Homo sapiens: one gene and its partners. The protein of the gene in region 6 purifies or fractionates together with the protein of the main gene of each other region. This does not show direct contact. Each region holds a gene or a part of one and is shown on either strand. Other genes may lie near its edges.

Region 1 (3,500 bases), on a different chromosome or scaffold from region 6:
AAATTACCAGAGGCAAACCTAAAAGTTTGTTTTGATTTTAATTCTTATACTTAAGGATCTTGAAAATGGTCAGTAAAAGGGTATATTCTACATAATAAAAGTCCTTTCTATTTGTACGTCCGTCAGTTTAAGGGTTATTTCTCTAATGTTTGATTGTGTTTTGCTCATTATTTGTATTACTGCATTCTAATCTGGCTTCCTGGAGTTAAATTACTACCCTATGAAGTTATGTCCCAGATTCATTGTCATTTCTGTTTAAGACAGGAAAATAAACTGACTTGGGTACCTTTACTTACCATTTTTGTTTTCAATGAACTACCATTATTTAACATACTAAATGGCACTGTAAGGAATCATAATTCAACAACAACAACAACAAAATGGAAAACTGATTTATATCAGTTTCTCAGGGGCCCATTTCTTATATTCACTTTTCATTTGTACATATGGTCACAAAACATATGCGAGTTATATAAACAAATTATATTATTATTTACAAAATAATTCCTTAAAGAATTATTTCAATTCAGCTGGACATGGTAGCCCAGGCCTATAATCCCAGCTACACAGGAGGCTGACGAGGGAGGATCACTGGAGACCAGGAGTTCAAGACTGGCCTGGGTAACATAGAAAGACCTCCACATCTAAAAAATAAATAAATAAATATATACATACATATATATATATATATATATATATATATATATATATATATATATGAATTAATTTTTAAAAACACTGGAAAATTAAATTCTCAAGTTATTTGATTACTCAAATCTTTTTTTTGAGACAGAGTCTTGCTCTGTTGCCCAGGCTGGAGTACAGTGGCATGATCTCTGCTCACCACAACCTCTGCCTCCCAGGTTCAAGTGATCCTTGGGCCTCAGCCTCCCAAGTAGCTGGGATCACAGGCATGTGCCACCATGCATGGCTGATTTTTGTATTTTTGGTAGAGACGGGGTTTCACCATGTTGGCCAGGCTGGTCTCAAACTCCTAGCTTCAAGAGATCTCTTATCTCAGCCTCCCAAAGTGCTGGGATTACAGGCATGAGCCACCACGCCCAGCCCAATTACTCAAATCTTAAAATTAAACATTCCATCAGAAGTCAGTGGCCAAAATTCTCCTTTACATACAGCATAGTCTACCCAAGTCAAATCCTCTTCAGATGTGAATTGGCCTAAAAAACTGTGATAAGCAAAGAACACAAGCACAAAATTCCATTTAAGAGATGCTTCGTGCCTAGAATCAGCTTTAGGGTAGAGAAATATTAATGACAGAATTAGTCAGCATTTGGTTTAGTGGTCTAAGTATGGCCTGACTGCAAGTTGGGCTAAATATATCAAAAAGTCTGTCCAATGTGTGGCCTAATAATTCACTGCCCCTTGAAATCCATGCTATCATATTTCTGTAGATTCATTAATGCTAAAATGATTCCAATAGACAGATTTTTATTTATAATTTCACCTAAAACAACCAAGCAATTTTTCAAAATCATTATAATATTGCTGCTGATGTTAATAAATATGAAATCTCTTACTTGTATGGGGTAATTCTTTTCCTCTTCACAGTAGTAGGTTGTGCTAATACAACAATTTTTCTTTTATTGTTCACTAATGAGACAGTAATTGCCATCAGAATCCTACTGGAAACATAGACTTTTAAATATAACAGGCCTAAAGACAGGTTTCACTGTATTTATAATGATTTTCAGATACATTTTGTTCTGCATGAATACAACAGCACCAAAATGTTTTCTTTTCTGTGGAAGATAAACTTCATATTATTTAGCAACGTGTGCATAGGAGAAACAAATTTAACCAGGCAGATCTCAGGTACCTCTTTCCAGCAACTAATGAAAGAACAATGAACAGAATGCTCCTTTTTACTTAAAGAAAAAAAAAATCCTGTTAACCTTTCATTAGAAATCCTTAAAAAAATGCTATTTTAAAGTTTTTAATGTTTGAATTAGAAATGTAACCATCGGACTCACTATGAGTTCCAATGTACCGCAATGCAAAACTGCACACTCCACTTCAAATACTGATTATATATAAAGAACATTTATAGAAAGATATTTTAATGTATTGTTGGCTGGCACCACTACCTTCAGAATTTATTTAGAATGTAAAGATTTCTAGAAATACATTTTAATTAATACTTTCTGGTGGTATATTTTGGTTGATGAACTGCACTTGGCAATTACCATCCTTTGGGACCTCAGGTACTCTTCGCCTCTTAAATATTGTAGGTGCTATTAATATTTACCACTCAACAGATGGATTAACAAGTCTGTTTCTCATTCTTAGATTATAATCTTTTCTAAAGCCCAAATAAAATGTGAAAGGAGAATAGTACCTTTCATGATGTCCTAAATCCAAAAGAAATTCATCTGCATGTCTTTGGAGTTCATTTCCTTCTAAGTTCTTTAATTTCTTCAATTCACTCTGTAGGAAAAACCAGAGCTCTTTAGCTCCATTTTCAATCCTCCTCCTCAGGATTTCATGATCCTTCCCCAGACCTGTAGTCAAAGAATAGAGAGTTGTAGCATTTCCAACATTTTGATAAAAGGAAACTTTCAATTATCTGTGCTAAAGCCCATATACTGAGGAGGGGAAAACACTGTATAATCACCTACCATTTCTGGTCTGTTTCTTGTAATTTTCAATCTGTTCTTTGGCCTTAACAAGCTGCTCTTCTAAAACGCGTACTCTTCCTATAGCTGGCCCCTGATCAATAGGGCCTTCTGGTATCCTGTAGTTTAGGGAAGATAATGTAAACATTTAGCTTTCAAACTGTGCAACAAAATACAAGCTCACTTTCTAAAACATTTATACTGTAAACTCCATAAGTTGTTGAACCATATAGCACAAAAGTAGTACCAAATGGAATTTTCTCTTCAAAGGTATAGGATTAACCAGTGAAATGGACAATGAAATGATAATAACGAAAAATAGAAAATATTAATCTACTTCAGAAATCTATGATCTTCTAGGAGTTAACAAACCTCTAGAGCTGTTTCCTAAAAATCTTTCATCCCCAGAGTACCATGATCAGTGGCAAAGAGGTCAATTATTCATTAGCATTGAGAGTAACAAAAGTGAAGGAAAAAGTAAAGAAAAGGCTTAAAGGGAATAACGAAGCATATCTGAACATGTGTCTAAGGACATGCTCAAACATCAAATATAATGTATTTCTAAATTAATTATAATATCAGACTATGTAAATCTGTCTTTCAATTCATGACATTAGACTACTAAGCATTGGTCTTATATAGAAAAAAGAAAGACAAGAGTAGAAGATAAAACATATTAGAAAAAAATTGGGCCAGGTGTAGCCACTCATGCCTATAATCCCAGCACTTTGGGAGGCCCAGGTAGGAGGATTACTTGAGCCCAGGAGTTCATGGCCAGCCTGGGCAACACAGCAATCCCCCATCATTACAAAAATGAAAACATTAGCTGGGCACATGGTGGTGTGTGCCTGCAGTCCCAGCTACTCA
Region 2 (3,500 bases), on a different chromosome or scaffold from region 6:
ATTTGTGTTCATTTTGCAATAGTTCTAGCCATCTGCAGAAAACTTAAGTTGCCCTATGTCTGACTCAATTTGCAAACACTTTCTAGAATTCTATAAACACTAGGGGAAAAAAAAACGGTACCCTTACATGCTTGTACTCTTTCTCTTTAGTTCAAAAATATTCATGTAATATAGTACTTTGGTTATATTTAGTCTGTTTTTTAAAGGAAAGAATATTCCTTGAGCACTCATCTATGCAAGGTGAAAGATAAAACTACAACAGAATATACTCTTACTTGCCTTTTGATTTTTAATAGTAGGGCTCACCAAAAAGTTAAATCATCTATTACTAGACTATGTTGATTTCAACTTTTTTTTTCTTCTTTTTCCTTTGTATTTAGAAATTTTAAGCATTTATTAATGCTCATATTGACTTTTCTTGGGGTTCTTATCAAGGTTCTGGTCTAGTATGTAGACTGTACACATCAGTCCCACCATAATGGTCGACCATGTGTAAAATTCCTAGTTCTGTCTGGTTAGTGCCTGGGCCTCCATGGACTGTCTTTTAATATTCTGATGATTATCTCTACATAGGCTGCCAGATACTTCCAAGAAAAAATCCGCCTATCTAGGCTTATGCATGTTATATAATACCACAGATATGATTAGGTTATACACACATTTAAAATGCTGAATAATGAATTATTTTAGATTTTCAAGGATGGGCTTTCTAGAGGCATTAGTCACTTGGCTTGAGTGTACCCAGATCCTCAAAGCATAATCCATTGAGCATACCTTTGACAGTGATCTGTGCTATTGCTTCAATGACACCCAGTGTTGACATAGCAACACAGGTGTAATTTGCTGACTGTCTTACATCATTCAGTTCTAGCACATTTCTTCCTATTGGCATATCATCTTCAGGTGTCAGATCTTCTGCCCCCAACATCCACTTTACATAAGGCATTGGTGACCCCACGGCCACACAGGTGATATTAACGCTTCCGCCTGGCATGATTTCATGATTAGTGGGTGGGATAGAGAATCTTGGTGGGACACGGCGAACTGGAACAAAACACAAGGGAAATGATAACATATACAAGGCAAGAAAAAGTGGATTATTAAACACATGACATGCACCGTACAGACACGATTCAACAATTGAAACATTGTGGATTGTCCAAAAACAAAACATAAAGAAAAACTGTGGATAATACAGACCATACAAGTATGGTGTGTGTATACACAGAATTATTTATTTAGTTTAGTCATTGATATCTTAGACACACTAATACAAAAGTTGATTCAGACCTACAAGGGCCCCACAAAAAACTATCTACAAACTAACAATACACAAACATCATGCATAAGATAAACACAAAAACATATACATGCAGGCATATAACAATGATTCTATGCAGGCATGTATATGCAGAAAAGGGGGCTGGAAGGTCACCAGCATGTTTAAGTTGAGTATCAAAACCAACTTCAGTGCTGTGCACTTCCAGTTGATGTGAATGTAGGTGTGGGACCACACTGTCACATCCCAGCCCTGGAAAACATCACCTAGAGTACACTGAAAGTGCACTTTATGTTTTCAGATTCATAGTGGATGCAGCCTCAAGACCTCACACTAACACTGGAACAAACACAGAAATGTATATACATATTGATTTACAGTCACAGAAGAAGAAACAGGCTAACACCAGTAGAGATACTGGATTGGGTCATGCAAGGCATGCACAAGATGGAATCTCAAGGCCCGTGCTAAGGATATTGAAAGAATGGCTGGAATCCAAGACAGCAATGACCGCAGAAGAAATAAGGGGGCAATAGAAATAAACGTGAAAGGGGGAGGTAAAGTATAACGATTGAAACACAGGGACTTAGGGGATGACAGGGTTGAAAGACAGAAGATTAAGCTCAAGTTGTTAAAGGTAAGGATTGCAAATTCAGAAAGGGAGCTGGGTGTTTCACATACAGGATTCCATTCAATTCATATCAAAGGTAAAACAACATAAATGACAACAAAATCTTTTAAAAGGCTTTTTATGCCCACATTCAAATTGAGGGACACTGGATCTAAAACATACAGCAGGACATGACATTAAGAGAAGAGATCATATTAAAGCAACATAACACAGAAAAATTACCAAGCAATTTCAGTTCAGTGTTCCTGCTTCAGATAATCTGCAGGTTTATGTGTGTTTAAGTAAATGTGTTTTGGATGTGATACAAGGAGAAAGTGAAAGATAAATTGGTTTCATCTGGGGCTTTTACTGGCAAAATGTCATACCATAAGAATTTGAGATCTAGAGGGTAATCTTTAGGGAGCACACCTTAAATACATTTAATAAAGATTTTTTAAAAATTATAAATAAACTGATAAGTAACCTCATAACCCCAAGAAGAAGATAAGTAATTCTGTCTGAAAACTTTTTGGCTGCTCTTAAGGTCGAGATAAACCTCCGCTTATTTGAGATGGCTCACTGCAATGGCCTCATGGGTGAATGACAGTCATAGGAGAAGAAGAGAAAGCTAAGCATGCCTCCTGCAGCCAATTCACAGAGGTTACACAAAGCAAGCAGGAGCCAGTGTAGACTCTGAGGTATCAAAGAACATATCAAGAAAAATGGAGGAGAGTTTAGTCTTCATGCTTGGGATTAGGGGAGAAACTAGAAAAAGTCATTCTATGGGCAGCAGGCATCCTTATAAGACAGAAATTAAAGGCAGGGTGGGAGATGGGGACAGTGGAGCAGGAAGGAAAGCAGGAACACTGACCAAGTTCACTGGACCTTACAGAGTTAAGTGTTACCAGTTACCATGCACCCAGGTACATTCTCTCCCACCATGCACCACAGTTAGATACCACCAGCAAGCACCAGAAGCCATGGCCAGGGCATTCTCTGCTAAAACATACCATTAACCAAAAGAAGAACACAATGCAGCTACATTCATTTCATTTGTATTCTTTGTTATTGGTTTAATTAATAGTTTTGTAAGGTGGGTAAAAAGTAAAAAACACACCAACCTTCTCGCAGCTCTGAGGGATGTAGGGGGTTTGATGCAGAACACAATGAAATGAGGAAAGGAGAAAAACAAGGGAAACACAGAGAGAGTAAAAAGGCCATATCAAGGCTTTCAACTGCTACTTGAACATCTTTATTCGCTCTAGTTCATCCTTCCTATCTCAGCTGGAAAAGTTAGCAATATCTCACAGACTAACATGGTATTAGAAACAATAGCTAGCATCATTTTGAAATTTTCCATGGAAGAAGGTACACATGCCTCATGCAGCAAGGGAGGTCACTATTGTGGAAAAAGGATCAAGGGACTTTCGAAGAATTTAGAGAAGAAATGACTTTCTTCATATTTCCCCACCCCAGACTCCATAAAAAAAGAAAGGAGAGAAAAACATCCCCAGGGAAACAAAATTACCTCTAACAAAAATTTCAAAATCAAGCTAGGTATTTTCTTAAGGGAACCCATCCTATTGTAACTTAAAGCCCTCTCAGTCTTTT
Region 3 (3,500 bases), on a different chromosome or scaffold from region 6:
CTACAATTTGCTGTAACTGTGTATCTTTCAGATTGTTCCCCACCATCATCTTCAATACCTGGAAGAGTTCCCCATTGGAAATATAGCCATCTTTATCCATGTCATAGATACGGAAAGCAACTAAAAAAAAGGAAGGAAAATCAATTCCAATTACAAAGCAATCACAAGTAAATGCTTTCAGTAAGAAAGAAAATAGTAAACTGACAAACATCAAAATTATGACTATGAGGATGTCTCCTTCCTTAAAATAGAGTTGTCCTTAGGCACAGTTTAACATAGTTGGTTAAACGTACGGGCTTTTGAGACTGCCTGAGCAGATTTGGTGGAGCTTAGAGTAGGTTAACTATCCCTGCTAAGCTTCAGTTTCTACACAGATAAAACTGGATATAGTAACAACTCCAACCTCTCCGGTTCTTTAGAACATTTCTTCCCACTTTCACTAAAAAAATCTCTTCTCTAAATTACATATGTAGTTTTACATGGCTGTTTTCAGCAGAAAGAAACTGTTTTCCTTCTATCCAACTAAAAGCAGCAATGACACATTATTCAAATATAGTAGTTGGAAATGTCCTAAAAGGATTTTCACCAGAATGTAAAATTTCAGTTATGTCTAAGGATCTGGAATAAAAGACATCTTTTTCATTATTTTAAAAAGCATTCTATAATACAGTATGAAATGATGGTAGTATAAGAGAATGAAGTCAGTGAAGAAAAATACTTACACCTCAATTTCTGCTCCTTATCTCCTTTGACACTGAACTGAGAGACGCCCTCAATGAATTCTGAATAAGAGTTAAAAATGTTCACAAATCAGAACTTCCAATTTTTTACACAAAAAACATATTTACCTTACATACCCACAAAAGGATATTTCCTTGCTGCAAAACAGAAGTACTACTAGCAACGTTTAAAAATAAAATTGCCAAATTTGAAACCTCAACAAACAAGGTCTCTCTGTATTTTTTTTATTTGAACTTGGAGTTCTCTAAGGTCAATCAATTTGAACAAACATTTGTTAAGTGCAAGATAAAAGAACACTCAAAACATATTATTTAAGTTGTTTAACTCTTCCCTCTTAGAATATGACTGTAACAAGGGGCTTTAAAAAAAAACCCACTATAAATTGTTCTGACACACACAAAAAACTTTAGCCTTCTGTTTCAAAATTGTGAATCAAATATGCTGTTAGAAGTTTCATGACAAATGATCATTTTTCTTCACTGCCTGATAAGCACTAAATCATAATCAGTTTTATATCCCTCCACTTATAATTGTCCAAACTAAAATAAAATCTATTGACAAATCCCTTGTGAAATGTTTATTTACTTGTTAAAACAAACAAAAAAAAAAACTGGCTTGGCGCGGTGGCTCATGCCTGTAATCCCAGCATTTTGGGAGGTTGAGGCACGTGGATCACTTGAGGTCAGGAGTTCGAGACCACAGCCTGGCCAACATGGTGAAATCTCGTTTTTACTAAAAATACAAAAATTAGCCAGGTGTGGTGGCACATGCCTGTAATCCCAGCTACTCAAGAGGCTGAGACAGGAGAATTGCTTGAACTCAGGAGGCGGAGGCTGCAGTGAGCCGAGATTATACCACCACATTCCAGCCTGGGCAAAAGAGCGAGACTCCATCTCAAAAAAATTAAATAAATAAATAAAAGGAATTGCAGCTTCTAATGTATATAAGAATATACAGTATTGCCCTAAAGTGAGATTAATTTTCTAAAAAGAAAGGAAATACTGAGTCCCCCCTGCTTTTTGGTAGATTATCCTAAAGAATGACTTAATCATTTATGAACCACAGAGTAAAATGTCCTAGTTCATTAAGGTGTATATGCCACAGACGCTGAGGTTTTAACATAATCTATTATTGTAAGGTCACTAGGAATATAAGCACTTTTTTTTTTTTTTTACACAGAGCTGTAAGAATACAAATAGGTTAGATAACTTGTGGTTATAAAAAATAACTACTTTCTTACCTTTAAAGTCTACTTCTCCATTCCCATCTGTGTCGAATATATCTATTACTCGCTGTACTAAAGGATTCTGTTGTAACTCAGGCAGAGACATGAACTCTTCCACACTCAAAGAACCAGAATTGTCCAAATCAAGCTTCTTAAATCTCTTTCCTAGCCTTTTAATTTCATCCGCATCAACTAAAAGCAAACAAAAAAGGAAGCAAGAATTTTTTAAAAATGTTCCCAAATCCTTTCTAATGGGCAGTAGCAAGATTTTAAAAAAAATTTTAATAGTTATAGGGGGGAAAAAAAATCTAACAGTTATCCAATAGTTTAATTTCCAATTTGATAAAAAGAGGTATATATTATGTTAACTAATTTATTCTAATAGAGTAAGTACAGCATAAATACTTGTATTTGGTTACCTTTCTGTTTGTTTGCACCTGCCATTACATACATCCGCTGTATGCTGAGTCTCAAGATATTCCAGGCCGGATAATGCTAAGCTGATCATGGAGGTCACAAAAGATTATTTCAGGACTGACAATGCTAAGCTGATCACGGAGGTTCTACCAGACAGGTTCAATCAACCTCTGTTCTGTAAACCGAAGTACTTTCATTTTCATTTTTCTTGTTAAATTTTAATTTACTTTATTTCTAATAGTTCATGACTCAAAAATTCAAAGGGTATTCAAAATTCAAAGTTTCCCTCCCTTCCCACCCCGAGATATCCATTTCCTTTCTCTGAAAGCAACGTTGCCAGTTTCCTAAATATTCTTCCAGAGATACTTTGCAAGTTTGAGCAAATAAGCCAGTTTTTACTTAACAACCAAATAGCTAACAAAATTCACTTATCAACACTTTAAAAGAGAAAGAATAACTAAAAAGAAATGTTTACATTAGTTTGTAAGTAATCCATAAAAATTCAGTGTCAGGTCTCTTATATAAATTCTTGAAACAACAGGTTTAAGCTATTTTCTTCTAAATTACATCATTTTCATTCCTTTAAAATATCTGACTAATACACATAAGTAATTTTGATCATGACTTTATAGAAATAATTACAAATATATTTTTTAAATTAAATACAACGGGCCAGGCGCAATGGCTCACGCTTGTAATCCCAGCACTTTGGGAGGCCAATGTGGGCAGATTACTAGAGGTCAGGAGTTACAGACCAGCCTGGCCAACATGGTAAAAACCCCACTTCTACTAAAAATACAAAAATAAGCCGGGCATGGTGGCACGCACCTCTAATCCCAGATACTCAGGAGGCTGAAGCAGGAGAATCGCTTGAACCCAGGAGGCGGAGGTTGCAGTAAGCTGAGATCACGCCACTGCTTTCCAGCCTGAGTGACAGAGTGAGACTCCATCTCAAAAAATTAAAAATAAAAATAAATTAAATACAACAACTTTTAAAAAGAAAATTAAGAAGGCAAATGTTATACTGCCCATGAGTATATATGTATTATGGCCCACAACACTAGAAAAGAGTACAAATACAAGCTGTTTTGACAGCTTAAATATATGGCATCCTCAC
Region 4 (4,151 bases), on a different chromosome or scaffold from region 6:
GGGCGGGGGAGGAGGTTGCAGTGAGCCGAGATCGCACCACTGCATTCCAGCATGGGCGAAAAGAGCGAAACTCCGTCTAAAAAAAAAAAAAAAGTATAATGGAGGCAATAGAGCCACAGGAGCAAAGCAGGGTGAAAAGCTTAATTTCACCAAGGTGGTGATCTGGGAAGGTTTCCAGAGGAAATTTTTATTTCCTCCAAAATAAAGTGTATATATATATATATACTTTATATATATATAAATATATTTTTTGTTGTTGTTGTTTTTGTTTATTTGTTTTGAGAGGAGGCCTCACTCTGTTGCCCAAGCTGGAGTACAGTGGCGAGATCTCGGCTCACTGCAACCTCTGCCTCCTGGGTTCAAGCAATTCTCCTGCCTCAGCCTCCCGAGTAGCTGGGATTACAGGCGTGCACCACCATGCCCAGCTAATTTTTGTACTTTTAGTAGAGACGGAGTTTCGCCAGGTTGGCCTGGGTGGCCTCGATATCCTGACTTCTGTTGCCCAGAGTGATCATGGCTCACTGCAGCCTCGACGACCTGGGCTCAAGTGATCCTCCCATCTCAGCCCCCAGAGTATCTGTGACTACAGTCACGTGCCACCACGGCCGGCCTCCTGTATTCTTATATGTATACAATATCTCACAATTAAAGGGTAAATAAATATAAGATCTAGTCAAGGGTATTGGGAGGACTGGCCTAGATATTTCTTTCACTAAACTAAATTTTAACTCTTAAGAAATGTTCACAATAAAATTGTTATCATAGTCCATAAAATCGGTCTTTTTAGTTGCCACAATTATAAGAAGTTGCATACAATTACAAGAGTAAAACAGAATTATAAGACAGCACGTTAGGTTTAAGATTTATGGCCGGGTGCGGCGGCTCACGCACTTTGGGAGCCCGAGGCGGGCGGATCGCACTTTGAGAGACCAGGAGAGCGGGACCCAGTCTCTACAAAATAAAAATAAAAATAAAATGTGGGGAGAGCGTGACGTTTTCCAGGTACAGAGGGGAGGTCCAGGCAGAAGCGCAGGTAGAAAGTGTGAATATGCTGAGCGTATTCCGGGAGCAGCAAGTTAAGCCGGTGTGACCGGAGGGAAATGGAGGCCTGGCTGCCGGACGGTGAGGGTGACTGCGCGAGCGTCCGCCCAAGAAGTCTCCCTGCCTTCCCGCCTTTCCCCTGTCTTGGGCCCCTTCTTGCTTTCCTTTCGCGCTCTGTGCTGACTCCGCCCCTCCGGCGGCGCCCGTGGCCCCGCCCCTGAGGGAAACAGACAAGGGGCGGGGCCGGCGCGGTCATCTCTCTGCGCCTTCCCGCAGGGCGCCGAGCACCTGGCGCCGCCTGCCTGACGTCACGGTCACTGACAGCGTGAGCCCGCGGCGGCTGCTGCCATGGTGGCTGGCGGCCGGGTAAGGGTCTGAGTGGATCTCCTGCCAGGCCAGAGCGCCTTCGGGGGCCGCGGCGGAAGGCCAGGAGTTTGCAGCCAGGGCGCCGGGTTTGTGGTCTGCAGTGTCGTGAGGCTGAGGTGGGGGTTGAAGGCCCAGAAGCCGGACTCTGTGACCCGGGTCGGGGGGTGTACTGGAGGGGCGGCTACGTCCAGGCTGGGTGAGAAGAGAGGCAGTGGGGCCCAGGAGGCTGGAGGAAGCCTTAGGGTTCAGACTGGGGTGCACGTAGTCGAGAGCTCAGGGTTTGGGCAAGGGGATACCTGCCGGGGTTCAGCCTTGAGGGTGGGTTTACCGGGTTCACGAATCTCTCTCTCTCCTTACCCCCGCCCGCCCGCCCGCCTGCCTGCTCCCGGTGACTTCTGCTGGCCGCAGGTGCAGCATGTCTAGACTGGGAGCCCTGGGTGGTGCCCGTGCCGGGCTGGGACTGTTGCTGGGTACCGCCGCCGGCCTTGGATTCCTGTGCCTCCTTTACAGCCAGCGATGGAAACGGACCCAGCGTCATGGCCGCAGCCAGAGCCTGCCCAACTCCCTGGACTATACGCAGACTTCAGATCCCGGACGCCACGGTAGGAGCCCGTCTCCTGAGACCGCGGTCACTGCAGACTAATGGGCCTGAGGTCTGGGCTGCTTTCGGTGGAGACTGTGGGACAGGGTAACGGAGAGAAGTGCTTTAGGGTTTCACTTTTTTGGAAGCTTGTTGAAAAAGCAGTCGTCGGGCTGGGCGCGGTGGCTCACGCCTGTAATCCCAGCACTTTGGGAGGCCGAGGCGGGCGGATCACCTGAGGTCAGGAGTTCAAGACCAGCCTGGCCAACGTTCAACCAGATGTCAACATGGTGAAACCCCATCTCTACTAAAAATACAAAAATTAGCCGGGCGTGGTGGCGCGGCCTGTAGTCCCAGCTACTGGGGAGGCTGAGGCACGAGAATCGCTTGAACCTGGTAGGCGGAGGCCGCAGTGAGCTGAGGTTGCGCCACTGCACTCCAGCCTGGGTGACAGAGTGGGACTCTGTCTCAAAAAAAAAAAAAAAAAAAAAGCAGTCGTGGTTTTCTCTACTCTTTCGCCTGTACTCACAAGAAAGTATATTTCAAAAAGACTGTTTAACTTTCACTTTTAGTTCTGGCCACAATAGTGCTATGTGGGTATTAAAGGCACTTGCTTAGTGTTGGGTGAGGTGTGTAATAAGTAGAGGAAGAGTCCAAAAGAGGGCAAAAAGAATAATCTTGTAGGGATTAAAAGTCTTGAGGCTTATGTATTAAATCATATATTAGAATTTGAAGACAACTTGGCAACTATCAAGACAACTTGGCAACTATCTCATTCAAGTTTTTTTTTCTTTTTATCCCTCCTATGAGGAAACCAAGATTCAAAAAGATGGTATAACTTTCCTGAGGCTGTCACAGATTAAGTGGCAAGGTTGGGCCTGGTCACCTGGTCCAGTGGACTTTCTACGGCATAGGGCTAGGAGCACGCTTAATGCAATTGAAGCTGAATGTGGCTGGCAGCCTGTACAGCTGAAATGAGTAGTTCTTGCAGATTTGTCAATTCATTTGAGCAAAGGATCTAGGGCTGGTTCAAACTACTACCATCTTTGTGCAAGAGGAGTGTTTTTTTTCTTTTCTTTTCTTTTTTCTTTTCTTTTCTTTTTTTTGAGATGGAGTCTCGCTCTGTTGCCCAGGCTGGAGTGCAGTGGCATGATCTTGGCTCACTGCAACCTCCGCCTCCCTGGGTTCAAGTGATTCTCGTGCCTCAGCCTCCCGAGTAGCTGGGATCACAGGTGCGTGCCACCATGCCCAGCTAATTTTTGTATTTTTAGTAAAGATGGGGTTTCCCCATGTTGGCCAGGCTGGTCTCCAACTCCTGGCCTCGGCCTCCTAAAGTGCTGGGATTACAGGCGTGAGCCACCACACCTGGCCAAGAGGAGCGTTTACATTATCTCACTCCCATGCTAATTGGAAATGAGTGTTTTCTCTGATTGCCAATGTTAGATGGTTTGGAAAAGTTAGTTTTGGAGTCTTCAAAGAGCTATCAGCTTAGATTGCAAATGATTGTCAGCATTTTATAATCTTGTGGTAATCTAGTATTGGAGTGTGCTTCCTTCCCTTGTATTTTGTTTGTAATTGCTTCGCAGTAGTGTTTCTTCTGAGATTAGAAGAAAGTGGCCACATTGCCAGGGATCTTTCTTGCACTACATTCTTGAGCATTATTGGATGTATGTTGTGGCCTGGCCTAGTTTTTTACCAGATTTCCTTTAAGAAGGGATTTATGCTTGCCGTATTGTAGGGTCCTGCCTCTCTGGTTTCTTTTTTGTTTTTGCATTTTCCAGTTCAGTTACCATAGGTGGCTGTCACTTTGCTAGCATTTCACTGCTGGAATTTACTCTGAGATCTAGGGTTGGGTCAGCAGGGCTTAGTGACGGTGTCTTTCTGAGGCAGTTTGGATGGGCTTTTTCTGGTGTACCTTTTCTCTTAATAACTGCCCCCTTTCTCCTAGTCCTTCTCTGATATACTAAATGAAGTTCTGGGAGAAACTCCAAGTTTTCCCTACTATTATTTGTGAAGTGAGAGATCAGAATTTGAGGGAGCTCAGTTTTAGTTTTAGTTTTGCTATGTGGTTGGTATTGACTCCTTGGTATTGGGCACTATATGGTGAGGTGAAGGTTTTTGTTTTTTTTTAACTCTAGCAGGACAGCTGTCCTCCTTCAGGTTC
Region 5 (2,229 bases), on a different chromosome or scaffold from region 6:
CAGCCTGGGTGACAAGAACAAGACTCTATCTTAAAAAAAAAAAAAAAAAAAGGAAGAAAGTAAAAGAAAAATCAATCACAATACTAGGAGTTTCTCTCTTCCCTGGAAGGAGCAATATGGCACCTATTTTGATAACACAGAGAGAAGGCTGGAGCTGTGTGATGTCGGGAAGAGAGGTTCTACTGGGTGCCATGTGGAGCATGTAGATGAAACTGATGCCCAGAGAAAGCTGTAGAGATGAAGAGAAACTGAGCCATTGTTGACCACATTTGAGCCACTAGATCAATTCTCCCCTGAAGTAGGTCCTTTTAATTTATATGAGCTAATAAACCCCTTTCTTGTTTAAGCCAGTAGACTTTTGTGTCATTTGCAACCAGGAGCACTCCAACTGACAGAATCAACGAACATTAAATCCTATCCTCCTTTCCTGAAGACACCAGTGTAAACAGAACCTTGTCTTGGAGCACGACTGGTTGCGAGTAACAGAAACCCACCGAAGCTGGCACAAGTAAAGAAGTATTTATTACATGGGTCCAAGGTTATCTCCAAAACCCATAGGAGCATGAAGTAAAAGTGAAATTCATGCAGAACCATGATCAGATACTTAGAAAGCAATTAATAAATACCTGTTGATCTCAATGGAATGAACACTCAATTAACTGGAATTGATAACTGCACTGGGAGCCGAGATAACCCCCCCAGCCCTCAAGGAGCCATTTGAGCTCTCATTTCTGATTCTCCCTGAATATTAGCTTCATTCTTCTGCCCTGTTTGCTTGTCTCTTTGCCCACCACCTCGAATTGGCCACTGATATTTCTAAATCTGATTGTGACCTTAAGAGCTCCACCAACTGACAACTTTCTTAGCCTCTCCATTAAAGAAAGTTCTCGAGCAAAAGAATCTGATTGGCTCAGCTTAAGTCAGGTGACAACCACTAATCCAATCGGTAGTCATCTGCCAAAAGAGGAAGCATAAGTAGACTGGCAAGTCAAATGTATTTACCCCAAGATGGGAGCTCAAGTTAGCCCTGGGTGGGGGAGATAGAAGTCCCACTGCCACCACTCCCCACCTTACCTAGACACAGACCAACAACACTGAGTGTTAACTATTCCTTTATTAGGTGGTGAGGGGAGTGGGGGGCTGTACAATGCAGGGCTTGGGAATTCAGCTACACAGGGATTTTGACCAGAAGCCATATTACAAAAATAGCCTAAAAATACCTCTATTCTGCCATGAGGCTGGGCCAGAGGATTACCAGGAAGAGAAAGTACCACTCAGGCAGCTCCTCTTCTTGTAGTCCCACATTTACAGGGACACAAAGGAATGCATACATCTGCCCTGGCTCCCATTTCCCACCAGCAGCCCCCTAGTTCCCAAAGGGAGATGGCCAAGGGTGGGGCTGGGGCAGAGGGAGTTGGCAGTGGGCCCTTCCCCAGCAAGGCTATGGAACATGTCCCATCTGGAATGCAGTGAAGTGAGGGAGGTGGGGTGGGGAGGAGGCTCCCAACACTCCCCCGACCCCTGGCCCCAGTGGGTGCGCCCAAGGGTGCCTACTTGGTACATACCTGGGTCGTGTACTCGGTACACGGGATCCCAGTCATGCCTGTGTACTAGGTACACAGAATCCAGCTTGGCCGAATGGGCCCACAGACTCAGCCCCACGGGGGCACTGGGGGGTTCACAGGGGGAGGGAGCATCTCCATATATATATTTTGTAAAAAATAATAATAATAAGTTTGTTTAAATGAATTTGTTTCTATACAAAATGTAAAAAAAAAAAGAAAAATAAAAATAATAATAATTCATTCATGTCAGAGTGTAAGGAAATGAGAGGCCAGAAGGAGAGAGAAAGGAATGAGGGAAGAGAGAAGTGGGGAAGAAGGAGGTCCCAGACTCTTCACAAGACTGAGAGGGTGGGTGGTAGCCCCCACCCATTATAAATAAAGGAAGACTGAAGCCCTGGGCTGATGACCTATCTCGGTCACGCTGCAAGGCAAGGATGCAGGAGGGTTGGTGGAAAGAGAAGAGGATGAAAAAGACTAAAAGGAAGGAAGAGACAGAGAAAGAAAGGAGGCAGGACGGGGGTCTCTTTAGGCCCCCAAGATCTAAGAACTGACGAGCGTCTCAGGCCAACACTTGCCTCTTGGGGGTAACTTCCGGCTGGGGCCCCAGCTGGGTCTGGGCCTGAGCAAGGGAGCTGGGAACAGACAAGGGAAGTGGCTGGGCAGG
Region 6 (3,311 bases):
TCTACTTTGTCATTTTGGTGACACCCGGCATCTATGTATTTTACAGGGGCTGGGATTGGGCTGGTCTTACATGCGTTCATGCAGTCATTCAAGAAAAGAGGTTGTTCGCACTAGTTCTTTTTCAGGTAACAAAGAACAGCTCAGGAAGATTTTAATTTAACTAAAAGTACAACTTCCAAGAATAAAGGTGTTTTGTTTCTCATATTTCAAGAAAAGCAGGGACATCCATAAGGTTGCTTCATCTACATGAGGTGATGCTTTAAAAAAGGAAGACAGATAAATTAATTGGACTTTGGGGAATGGTGATAGTTTTTTTTTCCTAATGCCCTGATACAAAGGGCATTGGCCAAATTTCTGCAGGGCCTCAAGACTGAACTTGGCTCTCATAAGGGATTTGTCTCCAAGACTGAAGGTCTCAGGTGACAGGCTGCATGACCCTGAAAGACAACACAAGAAAACCAGCTCAGCCAGTGTCTGTCACCTGAGAGATAATGAAACCTTCACTTTTTAACAAGGTGGTAAAACTTCCCTTTTGCAAAGAATAGCATAACATTTTTGTATATGTCAATCAGCCTGTTTTGCACCAACTTGAAAGCAATGAACACAATCTCCATTCCAACGATGATATAAATGGAGAAGAACAGGAAGAAGTTAGGGTGTTCTAAAACAGTATCCCCAAACCCAATGGTGGTGAGTGTGACAAAGCAGAAATAGAAGGCATTCTCGAAATCCAACTGTGTCTCCCAGAAGGGGAGGATGGCAGCTGCACAGGAAATGTAGGCAAAAACAATAAGGGCAATGATGGGGAGGGGGATGTCCAACCTCTCCACCTGCTGTCCAACTTCATCCAGGTTGCTGATGATGGAGTATGAGAGTCTTCCCAACACCAGTTCGGGACACGAGTTACTCCTCTCCATGGCTTGTGGGGGCAGTTGCAGTGTGTTCTGTTTCTCTAGCGCATGAGATCTCTCAAACAGCTCCATGCTGCAGCTTGGGCGTGAAGGACATGTGCCAAGTTTGGGGCCTGGAAGCTCTTCAGCACTGATGATGATCTGAGGGACAGCTTCATCTGCGGGCTTGGGGTCCGGTTTTTTCTTGAAGAGAGATTTGGGGCACCACTTGGAGAGGAGGGGGCGGGTAAAGAAAGGGAATTTTCGGAACCGATTATAAGATGTAGATAAGATGGTTGCCAGGATGTCGCCTGTGTCCGTGAGAACGAGGAACATCAGGGGGATACCAAAGAGAGCATAGAGCATGCACAAGTACTTGCCAAGCCTGGTGACGGGGTAGATGTAGCCATAGCCTGAAAAAGAAGATGGAGCTTAGAGTTTGCATCTGGCCCCTTCCCTTTTTCCCCCCAAAAGCTTTAAAGAGACCTTCTGCCATCTCCCCTCCTTGGCATGACATTTTACACATTGTTTTTGAAAATACTCATCTCAAAGCATTCAGCCACTGGTCTGGCATTAGGCTTGCTTTGGTGGGAGGGAAAGGAGTGAAACAGCTTCCCTTTAGGATAAGGAGCAACTGATATCCAGGTCTTTGATTTGAAATGTCCTTGGCAGGGGACCAGCACAGGTTTGGGGTGAACAGATTGCCTTTGATTCTGTTCTGGCCATTTCTGAGCACCCCCCAAAGGAAGGGCTCAGCTGACCTGGAAGGACAGGATGAGTACAAGTGAGAGAGGATGGGTGGCTTTGTAATCATATCCAATGCCACCTTTATCCTCTGTGAAGGTGCTGGCTTTTAAGAAGCCACCCTTGGCTGGGCGTGGTGGTTCATGCCTGTAATTCCAGCACTTTGGGAGGCCAAGATGGGCGGGTCACCTGAGGTCAGGAGTTCAAGACCAGCCTGGCCAATATAGTGAAACCCTATCTCAACTAAAAATAGAAAAATTAGCTGGGCATGGTGTAGGGCGCCTGTAGTCCCAGCTTCTCAGGCGGTTGAGGCAGGAGAATCACTTGAAGCCGGGAGGTGGAGGTTGCAGTGAGCCAAGATTGTGCCATTGCACTCCAGCCTAGGGGACAAGAGTGAGACTCCATCTCAAAAAAAAAAAAAAGCTACCCTTGTCCTCCATAAGAGGACTGAGCTCTTTGTTTCTAAGAGGCACTTATTGTGTTCCCATGGTGTGCTCAGCAGTGTGCACAGTGTTAGGAAAAACAGAAAGATGGAAGATGAATAAAATACAATTGCCCTCAGAGCCATTTGTGGCTTAGCAGATTAGACAAACATGTTCCTAAATGACAGTGAAGCCATTAGCCTCCCAGCATCTAGGTTCTGACTGACCTTGCTTTGAATCCCAGCTCTGCTATTTATGATAATATTACTTGACTGCTCATATTTTCAGGTTTTTTTTATCTGTAAGATGGGGATGACAATACCTACTTTGCGTATTGACTAGCTGGGAGGATTACATGAGGCCCGTGCTTGACACACAGTGCGCGATTAATAACTGGTGGTGTCCTCACCCTCAAGACCTTAGCTGCCTAGTGAGCACTTCCTGTGGGCTGGGTGTCAGTCAGCCTTCATAGGGAGGTATTGTTATCACCATCCACAGGTGGGGAAACTGAAGCACAGAGAAACGAAGTAGCTTGGCCGTGAGCATACATGTGATACACAGTGGAGTTGGGGTCAAATCCACAGGACTCTCAGGTCCCCAACCAGTGCTGTCACCCTCAGGAGCATCCGGGGGCAGGACCATTCAATCAGAGACAACCAGGCAGCCAAGCAAAGGAAGGGATGCGCTGAGGTCTCCATCCCCGTCGGGAGCCCCTCCCCTCCCCTTGCACCTACAGAGGGGCAGGAGCAGACAGACCTCAAACCCCACAGCGCAGGTGGCTAGATCTTCTGGAGCGGGCAAGCATCAATTCGAGCAGAGGACAAAGCTTTTGTATTTAATGCCTGTGTTTAATTTTTGATGTCATAAAGGATGATTAATACAGAAAAACCCAGCCCAATTATGTAAATTAATCTGAAGGCAACTCCTCAGCTGGCTAAGCCCCAACTTCCTCCAGAAGTGCAGCTCCCTGTGGCAAACTTTGGCCTCAGGCTCTGCCCTCCAAGAGCAGGTGGGCATTCAGGTTGCCTACCCTCACCAGGGTCCCAAGTGTAGGGGAGGGAGCTGTGGCTCTCAAAGAGTCTCATCAGTTTGCATCCATTCCAGAGCACTCCATGCCACTCTGGCTGGTTCCACTAAGTACCATTTGATGGCAGCGTCAGTTAACTATGTGCATTCATTCATCCATTCATGCATGCATACATTCAGTATTGAGTGCTTACTGCATGCACTGTGGGCATAGTGCTGAGCAAAGTAG
Region 7 (3,500 bases), about 30 Mb from region 6:
TGTCTCTACAAAAAATACAAAAATTAGCCAGGTATAGTGGCATGCACCTGTAGTCTCAGCTATTCAGAAGGCTGAGGCAGGAGGCTGGCTTGAGGTTGCAGTGAGCGGAGATCGCAGCACTGCACTCCAGCCTGGGCAACAGAGCCAGGTGCTGTCTATGGAAATAAAAAAGGAAATTGTAATCAAACAATTAGCTTTTCAGAAATGATTTAGTTATAAATTCTACATATGAATACAGGACAGAATCTAGACAGTAGGTATTCCTCCAATATATTTACTGATGTGAACATACAGCGATGTGTACACCAGGCATGTTTCTCCTGGGGGAAATCGATGCTTTCATATGGCCCCTCCCTTCTTTGTCTCATGGGTCCCAAATTATATCTTACTTTGCACTGAAAATCAGATCCTTCATATTTCATACACCCTGAAGCTAATGTGGTTTCTCCCTGGTCATCTTCTTCTATGATGGCAAAGCAATGTCCATTAGTTCTAAAACAGAAAAAAACAAAACAAAACAAAACATAAATTCACATAGAAAGTACTAACGAAATTTGAGTCTGAATGTGAACAGGTACAGATGGCCTTTAATACTTTGTTTTGTGACTTAGAATTGCATTCACACGTGATTTATTGGCAACGCCAGAGGTTTTAAGACAAATGAAAGTTATGTCTGAGCCAAGATCTAAAAGGCCAGTGACAACCCTTTGTCAAGAAGAAAAGGATTTCAATTAAACAAGTCCTCCACATAGGAGTTATGTGACTTCTCTTTGCTAATCAGTCATGTGATCACAGAAAGCTGATTTATAAAATTTTATGTCATGTTTTGAAAACATACTTTAAAATAACTTTGTCTCTTTTTACCCATTTTTTCAGTACTTCCATATTGTATATGATAATAGATAAAAACAAACTTTTCTCTGAAACATACAAATAGGCTTAATGACCAAAAAAAAGGGGACTAAAAGGCACCTTTTACTGAATATGATGGGAAAACAGGGAGAGGACTTTTGAATAAATTTTCAATAAATTTACATACATATATAATGAAATTCTTATTTTAGTGTTAGCATCCTGGAGTTTCCCCTTAATATATTCATATAGACTTTAACAGGTATGGGAGAAATTTCTAAAAGCTTTTTCTGTACTCCTATTTATTGTTAATATCAGGAATTGTGCTGCTTCTACTTAGAAGAATTTTGCAGAATTCTTGGTTTTCTGTTAGGAGAAAATGTTAAGTGTGGGGCAGAATTCTGTTAAAATGGATGATTCAGTTTTACTCTGGGTTACTAAGCTACTAACAGACAGCCCATTACATCAGGCAGGTACTACAGACAAGAAGTTTAGCAAAACATTATTTGGTGACATAGCAGAGAGCAGTTCCCTGCTGGCAAACTCTCACCAAGGTAAAAATGAACAACTAGTCACAGTCAGCCACGCAGAGCCCACCACCACCAGGGGACAAGCAGCAAACCTAAGACACGATGACCGTCATGCAGGTTCAAGAGTTTACGTGTAAAGTTTCATGCTTTCTATCTGGTCCATTCAGGGAACATACAATTATTAAAAGTATAAAACATGACATTCATTATTGCCTCTATAACAAGGAGACAATTAATTGACTGATGAGGTTGAGTTGTTCAGGCAATTTTTTTTGGTCTTATTAAGTCAATATGTCAATGTTTCCAACAAATATGGACTAGAATTACATGATCATATATAAACATGTTGTGCAGCTAACACGAAATACACTAGAAAAATTAAAATCATTTTATAAATCAGATTTGGATTGGTAAATTCACAGGTAAGAAAAAAGCATAAAATTAATTAACACAATATGATTTATATATATCTGCAAAATATTTCAACTAATTAAGAAGTAGGAGGCCAGGTGTGGCAGCTCACCCTAGTAATCCCAGCACTTTGGGAGGCTGAGGTGGAAGGACTGCTTGAGCCCAGGAGTTTGAGACCAGCCTGGGCAACATAGCAAGATCCTGTCTATAGTTAAAAAAAAAATTTTTTTTTAAATTAAAAAGAAGTAGGAGGTTGTCAGTGAGTTTTCTGATTTCTTTTTTGGTAACCTCTAAGTTTTCTAAAATGAGCATCAATAAATTTAAGATTAAAAGATCATTAAAAACTCAGATGTTAAATACTAGATCCCTTTGATCTTATTTTAAAAGCTGCATTATAACATAATTCTAATATAGTAACTCACCTATCAATCATTTAATGGAATAATGTTCTAATATACAAAACAAAAGGCTTTTTGGCTTTCTGGAAAGATACTATATATGAATGAAAAAAAAACCGCAGACAAGTTTAATAATTCTTAAAATAGCACTAAATGCAACTCTATTCTCCTAACTCTTAAGAAGGGCTGCATAAAATACTTACATGCATGTGTTATTAATAGCATCATCTGGACAGTGCCCTGAGCAATAGCACTTTAAAAAAGGCAAGGTATCCTCTGGTGCTAAGGTTACTCCATTTTCTGACTTTTTCTGGTCGGAGTCTGATTTCATCCCAGTGCCATGAAGCATACTATCCAGATTCTGTCCTGCATTCAAATATGGAATTTGTAAGTAAATCATTTCTGAAAAGCTCATTGTTTCGTGACAATTTTCAATGAGAAAAAGTTGTTAAGCTTTCTTATCACAATAATTGTAGCTAGCATGTTTCTTTAGAAATATAAATTTCATTCATACAACAAACAGACATACATTATTATGCACAGAATTACTGCACCAGGTATTGCGGGGTACATGAAGACAGCTATATCACAATTTTTGCACTAGTGAAAGACAAACAAGAGTGGCGCAAGGCAGAATACAGTCAAATCTTGTTTTTTATATTTTTAAAATAACTTAAAAATTTTTTAATTTAACCAGGGAAAAGCATGAACGCAGTCCCCCACCACCACAATTATGCAGTTGAGTTTCCCACATTTGGGGAAATCGCAGGGGTCAGCACATCTGGAGTGCAATGAATAAGCCTCGCCCTGGGAAAACCACCTTCGTGACCGTGGTCTCTCCCCTGCCAGGTAAAAGTATATAGTCATCACTTGTAAGAAAGGTACAAAAGGGGGAGAGACTTCACAGAAGTCTGTGAGAGTTTCCAATCATTAAATAGAGACAAGTTATGATTCTTCTTTTAACTCTTTGGTTCAAAACTTGTGACCAGCTTTCCTTTATTTGTGCCTCTATGTGGAAAAGGAGTTACTAAGCATCTTGCTTTGGCCTTTAATTGCTTAAGTAAGGAAATCATGAGAGCATGGGGACCAATCATGTTATCTGGAGATTTTCACCTCGAGGTCATTGGTTTGAATGCAGACGATGCTGGCAGAAACTGAAGGTTATAGAAGGGCAGCAGTTAGCTCACAGAAATAGAACTATGTTCTTACACTAGAGTCTAGCAGCCTGCAGTGACAGATACTGTCATATTTGGTACTAAATCTTTCAGGCTGGAAGCAGAACGGAACTAAAAAAACTGTTCTAGTAATT

Evidence for each region.
Region 1: the proteins of KCNK18 (region 6) and FUT8 purify together in Homo sapiens (affinity purification with mass spectrometry; one large-scale study listed by BioGRID and IntAct). This does not show direct contact.
Region 2: the proteins of KCNK18 (region 6) and PTPRD purify together in Homo sapiens (affinity purification with mass spectrometry; one large-scale study listed by BioGRID and IntAct). This does not show direct contact.
Region 3: the proteins of KCNK18 (region 6) and PPP3R1 purify together in Homo sapiens (affinity purification with mass spectrometry; one large-scale study listed by BioGRID and IntAct). This does not show direct contact.
Region 4: the proteins of KCNK18 (region 6) and RMDN3 purify together in Homo sapiens (affinity purification with mass spectrometry; one large-scale study listed by BioGRID and IntAct). This does not show direct contact.
Region 5: the proteins of KCNK18 (region 6) and NOTCH3 purify together in Homo sapiens (affinity purification with mass spectrometry; one large-scale study listed by BioGRID and IntAct). This does not show direct contact.
Region 7: the proteins of KCNK18 (region 6) and BMPR1A purify together in Homo sapiens (affinity purification with mass spectrometry; one large-scale study listed by BioGRID and IntAct). This does not show direct contact.

What each region holds. Positions count from the first base shown.
Region 1 is NC_000014.9:65,615,230-65,618,729, reverse strand, and holds part of FUT8 (alpha-(1,6)-fucosyltransferase), read right to left. Parts: intron 2,753-3,500; coding exon 2,637-2,752; intron 2,520-2,636; coding exon 2,357-2,519; intron 1,641-2,356; coding exon of another isoform or gene 1,539-1,640; intron 1-1,538. UniProt on the Homo sapiens protein: Catalyzes the addition of fucose in alpha 1-6 linkage to the first GlcNAc residue, next to the peptide chains in N-glycans.
Region 2 is NC_000009.12:8,520,503-8,524,002, forward strand, and holds part of PTPRD (receptor-type tyrosine-protein phosphatase delta isoform 1 precursor), read right to left. Parts: intron 3,023-3,500; coding exon 3,011-3,022; intron 1,045-3,010; coding exon 775-1,044; intron 1-774.
Region 3 is NC_000002.12:68,186,533-68,190,032, forward strand, and holds part of PPP3R1 (calcineurin subunit B type 1), read right to left. Parts: intron 2,159-3,500; coding exon 1,982-2,158; intron 783-1,981; coding exon 723-782; intron 121-722; coding exon 1-120. UniProt on the Homo sapiens protein: Regulatory subunit of calcineurin, a calcium-dependent, calmodulin stimulated protein phosphatase. Confers calcium sensitivity.
Region 4 is NC_000015.10:40,752,455-40,756,605, reverse strand, and holds the start of RMDN3 (regulator of microtubule dynamics protein 3), read left to right. Parts: upstream 1-1,351; 5' UTR 1,352-1,523; intron 1,524-1,815; 5' UTR 1,816-1,822; coding exon 1,823-2,009; intron 2,010-4,151.
Region 5 is NC_000019.10:15,158,538-15,160,766, forward strand, and holds the end of NOTCH3 (neurogenic locus notch homolog protein 3 precursor), read right to left. Parts: coding exon 2,125-2,229; 3' UTR 501-2,124; downstream 1-500. UniProt on the Homo sapiens protein: Functions as a receptor for membrane-bound ligands Jagged1, Jagged2 and Delta1 to regulate cell-fate determination.
Region 6 is NC_000010.11:117,207,489-117,210,799, reverse strand, and holds the end of KCNK18 (potassium channel subfamily K member 18), read right to left. Parts: intron 1,304-3,311; coding exon 501-1,303; downstream 1-500. UniProt on the Homo sapiens protein: K(+) channel that conducts outward and inward rectifying currents at depolarized and hyperpolarized membrane potentials, respectively.
Region 7 is NC_000010.11:86,889,119-86,892,618, reverse strand, and holds part of BMPR1A (bone morphogenetic protein receptor type-1A isoform 3 precursor), read right to left. Parts: intron 2,558-3,500; coding exon 2,395-2,557; intron 493-2,394; coding exon 390-492; intron 1-389. UniProt on the Homo sapiens protein: On ligand binding, forms a receptor complex consisting of two type II and two type I transmembrane serine/threonine kinases.